Linked DNA regions of Homo sapiens: region 2 is linked to region 1. A link means that fine-mapping ties the variant in region 1 to the expression of a gene that starts in the linked region. Tissue or cell type: whole blood. Region 1 holds a variant in brackets; the other region holds the start of a gene. All regions are shown on one strand. Distances are between the middles of the regions.

Region 1 (2,618 bases):
TTGCCACAGCAGTTCTGAAAAGCGCTGCTAAATGCGACTGTATAATTTTCTCTTTTAGACAATTCAAAAGTTCACAAAAAGCAGAAAATCCCATACAAGAAGAGAAATAAAAAGAATGTAGCATACCTGAAAGAAGCAAAGCTTGCAAATAGACTCTCCTAATTATTCAGAAGTTGAAATGTCTGCACTAACAAGCAAGCTTATACCTAAACTAAAATTAGTAAAGATAGTCTATTTCCTATCATTTTTTTTTTTTTTTGAGACAGGTTCTCCCTCTGTCACCTAGCCATGGAGTACAGTGGTATGATCTCGGCTCACTGCAACCTCCGTCTCCCAGGCTCAAGCAATCCTCCCATCTTAGCTTTCCAAGTAGCTGGGACTATAGGCGTGTGCCACCATGCCCAGCTAATGTTTTATATTTTCATAGAGACAGGGTTTCGCCATTTTGGCCAGGCTGGCCTCAAACTCCTGAGTTCAAGCAATCCGCCTGCCTTGGCTGACCAAAGTGCTGCGATTACAGGCATGAGCCCCTGCGTCCAACCCTTCCTATCACTTCGAATAGGAAAAACTAAACCAGTGTTGGTGGAACAGGAGGTTAAAAAAAATTAATTTTCCATTTTTGCTTTTTCTCCAGTTAAAACCTGGAATTTCCAGAGCAGTTTTATTGATAATGACAAGAGAAAAAGAAGGCTAAAGAGAATATTTGAACCTCAAATGTCTTTGAGCTCCTAACAGCTTGAGCAAAACTAACAGTAAATAATTTCAGAAAAATTTTCTCATAGAGGAAATATATTTAGTTTATCTCATTTGACTATATACATCACATTTGAAGTTGACAATTTTAACAACAGCAAAAAAGAGGGCTTTCTCTTTATTTTTAATCCTAAATTAGTACAGTAATAAGTTCCTCTAAACAAATTCATATCTGATTCATTTCCTAATGTTAAGAAATACCAGAACTAGGGTCATCAGGAGCTTTTTATTTCTTTTTATTTCTATTTTTGACACTATTTCCCACTCTTCAGAAAATACACTGATCATTGGTGTGTAATTCTGTATAAGATCTCTCT[C/T]TAGACTCAGAACTGGATGTAAATATTGACTGTGCTACTATGAGCTGTAGCTGTAATGAGGATTAAATAAGAAAATACAGTGAAAACACTTAGCATAAGGCATGGGATCTCCCCCTCTCCGGCCACACACACACACAGTTGGCTGTAATTATTATTTTCTAACACTGTTAACTGCAAATGACTGGTTATTGTGAACACAAAGAATTTTTTCCAACTCAATAGTTAAGTTGAAAACATAGTTTTCTTGCTGTTCAGACGTGGTATGTTGTTTTTAATAAAATTCTACAAACCTTTTTTCCCTTTCTATTTCAAACAGTGTGCATTCTATTGCCAACCTAAGAAACTACTTTTTAAAAAGATTAATTGGGCATAGGATGATAAGATCCTATCTTTCCAATACACATTTTTATTTTTACAGCTAAATCGCATTTACCGACATTGTAAATGATTTATTTCAACTCTAAGGAAATATTTTCCTAACTAGATATCAAGTACTATCATTCAGCAGCAGCAAAATAAATTAACCAGAGCTATATTATTGCCACAAAGATTAAAAAAAAATTCCCAGGCACAGTACAAAACAGTCTACACGTAAGAATTCAAACCTATCCTATTTATTTTTACATAATTTTCACATTTTTCTTTGTTCAAATGGAATGGCATACTATCCTTTGTTACCAAAATTATTTCCAAAATAAAAAAAAAAAAACTTTCCAGGAAAGCAGAGAATAGCCAACAAACTGATACTAAGTACAATACATTAAAAATTGTAGTGCTTAAAAGATTGAGTTTTGCTTTGCTACCAAAATTAACCTTAGCTTAAAAAGACAAAACATAAAGGCACAATATCTCATTCTATATACCTATGGTTCTAAAACAAATTTCACAAACCTGACCACTGAATTTAAAAAAAGCAAATTACTCTGTTAAGAGGCATTATTTTCTATTAAAAAAACATAACTTTCAACCAGAAAAAAAAGAGGCCTGGTTTGCAATACAGCAAGTAATATTGAAAAGCCTGTTCAATGAGTACAATTACTTACTGAAAATTGTTTTTATGTAATTTGCTATTTATTCTGACAAAACTGACCAAGAGCCTCAATACCAAGATTAAAATAAATCAAATTCAAATTTTGTAAGATAGATTCCCTAATTTAAAAGCAAAATAGGCTAATGCACTTATAGAAAGTAAACAAACTACTCTTTAGCTCATGCTTACTATGGTTTAAAACTGTAGACTATATTATAGCAAGATTGTTAAAAAAAAAAAAAAAAAAAGGTGAGCCTGGAAAAGCCACTTTTCTTGATGTTGAAAGCTCCATCATTATCCATTCCCACACTCAACAGTTTTTAAATTTCTACTGAACCCAATTCAGCACCTGCTCAAGTCACTGAACTAAAACTTTCACTAAGATCACCAACCAATCCAGTATCCTAATACACATTCGGTCTTACTAGACATCTGACTACATGTGACATTGTTCATCAATCTCTACTCTCCTGGATTCTTTGAACATCTTCACCTCTGATTTCCCTTCAACCTCTCTC
Region 2 (2,500 bases), 99 kb after region 1:
CCAATATTATTTCAACAGTTTTGACCGGCGCGTTAAAATGAACTTCAATGCTGAGCCACATTATAAAGGGTTGAGTCAAGCTCCTGATTGTGTAAGATAGCATTTCCCTTAAATGAGCACTTCTCTTCTTTCCTCAGAAGCTAGGCTTCTTTTCAAATTAAAGAAAATACTCCACCCCTCAAAAACCTGGCATATTCTCGGTTCCCTTTACGCTTATTCACACCAGAAACGCTGAATCATGACTCCGAGGTTGTAAAAGAAAAACTATTTCGGCTGGGGCCCCAGGGTCCCTGGAGAAGCCTAGGCTCTGCGTTACCTCTCTCTGCACCTTCTAAAGTCTAGATCCAGAGAAGTCTGGCAGATTGGAGAGCCTCTGGGAGCAGCCAAGGGTGCAAGGCGGGGGCTGGGGGGCTCGGGAGAGTTTTCTGCTCCCTCTCCTGAACCCACGCAGCCCTGTCAGCTCAAGGCTCCCGCCTCGTCTCATCTGAACGAAACCCTTAAGGGGCTGATACACTTCTCATCTGCAAAGCTGCCCAACAGCCTCCGAGAAATTCTCTACTTGGAAGCATCGCCACCACCGCCACCCCTCCGGAACCCTCTGGGTCCGCGCTAGTCCCACTTGGTCACGATCCGGCAGGCGAAGGGGTGCGGAGGCGGTTTCACCAGCCCGCTCCCAGCCCTGCCTCGAGAGAGAAGCCCGCTGAGAGGGCAGACAGTTGAGAAACTCGATCCCAACTCCCCAGCCGGCGCCTCCCGAACCGCCCCGAGAGCCCAGATTAGCCGGGCAGTGGATCCCGGAGCAAAGTGCCATGCACATCCTGGAGAGGAGGGAGGCGTGGAGGGAAAGGGCGGCAAAAATGAAATGCCCCCAAGTCAGTCCCGCAACTTCTCCCGGTCCGAGGGACGGGCGGAGGGTAGAGGAGGCAGCGGCGGCTAGCGCGAGGTGAGGGACTCACTTGAAGGTGAGGACGCAGAGCGGCCGGTAGGACTTGTGGCTGGTGTTCTCGGCCATGCCCTTGCCCCAGAAGTCGTTGGTGAAGATGCCCCAGCGGAGCGGGGCGCCGGGCCGCACGTCGGGGTTGTTCACGATCGCCCACACGTCGTCGTGCACGAACTCGCCCTGCAGGGAGCGGCCGTAGCACAGGCAGCTTGCCCCGGCCAGCAGCGCCGCGGCCCCGGCCGGCGCTAGCCCGCAGCCCCGCCGCCGGGAGGGTGTGCGGTCCCCGCCGCCGCCTCGGGCAGAGGTGGTCACCACCATCGCGCCGCCGCCGCCGCTGCTGCCCTGGCCTCTCCCGGGCGTCTGGCATCCTCCCCTACCGGGGCCCCGGCGGCGCGCGGCGTCTGCCCGGAGGGGGGCTCGGGCATGGTGCTGCGGCAGCTGGACCCGCCGCGAGCTCCCCGCGCTCCGCCGCCGCCTGCGCCGCGGAGTTGGCCCAGCTGCAAATAAACAGCAGTCCCCCCGCCTCCCCCGGCCATCGCCACCTCCTCCGCCCCACTGCGCATGCCCGCTCGCTCTCTCTTCCACCGCCCCCCAATCCCGGGACGCGGGCCGGTTCCCCCGCACAGCCCGGCGCCCTCTGCCCCCGGCCCGCCTTGCTTGCAGGTGGACCGGGGTTCGCGGCGCGCGGCTGCCCGGGAGCTGCGGGGAAGGACACCCCAGGTTCCCACTTGCGGTGTCCGGCTGTGCTCACCCCCACGCCCCCGCCCCCATCCTTCTCCCCCGAATGGGGCTGGGAAGGGGCACATCTGGCGGACCCCTCCCGGGGGACCCAGGAGGGTTTAGCAGGTGCGCAGTCTGGAACCCCCACACCCACCTTCCAGGGAGAAAAGTGCCGCTGCTTCCCGGGAAGTTCCCGGCTTTTCAGCACCCGGGACAACAGCAGCGGCGCCCGGAGAGACGCTCTCCACCCGCCCCGCGCTCGCGTCCAGTCGCCGGCTCTGTGCTCTCCTGCCCGGGCTTTCTCTCACCCGCCCGGCGCGGCGTCCCGCTTGGCGGAGGAACCCGCGGGGATAGGGAGCACCTTCCTCAAAGCCAGGAGAAGGGGTCTCCCTGGACAAGGACATCCTGCTCGCCCTGCCCGGGTGTGTTCAGAGGCGCCACCGGCTCTTTAACTTTACAGCCCCTTTCTTGGCCCGCACTTACAAAAAGTACCAGGTTCGAGTTTTGGTTTGGGCCTGGGAGCCGAATTGTCTTCTGAAACATTTCTTATTTTATTGTTTGCTCAAGATAATTTGGGAGATGCCAAGCAAACTACTTTTTCTATCTAGCTGGATCACTTGGGTCTCATTATTTCCTGGGCTGTGGGCGTGTTTGAACAGGGCGGGGAAGAAGGTGGGGATGGGGGGATGGGGAGGTGGGGGCGATTTGTATTAGGGCCTCTGGCTTTGGCTCCTAAACTTCCTGTCTTTCTGAAAGATTGTTTTCTTTTTTAAAATACTAATTTTAATAATATGTCCCAGAGTGATGATTACTAGAATTTCTCCAGGTCTGAAAATTCTA

Evidence for each region. PIP is the estimated chance that this variant, and not a neighbour inherited with it, causes the effect.
Region 2: it holds the start of TMTC1, and the variant in region 1 is fine-mapped to the expression of TMTC1 in whole blood (INTERVAL, PIP 0.97).

Annotation. Positions count from the first base shown.
Region 1 is chr12:29,683,602-29,686,219 of GRCh38, forward strand. The region is part of intron 5 of TMTC1 (transmembrane O-mannosyltransferase targeting cadherins 1); the gene reads right to left. Among named protein-coding and RNA genes, the nearest start is that of TMTC1, 99 kb to the right of the region's middle. The variant C/T (reference allele first, on the strand shown) is at 1,071.
Region 2 is chr12:29,782,494-29,784,993 of GRCh38, forward strand. TMTC1 (transmembrane O-mannosyltransferase targeting cadherins 1) reads right to left here and starts at 1,449. Exons shown (of 18, transcript NM_001193451.2): 1 at 957-1,449. The coding sequence starts at 1,258.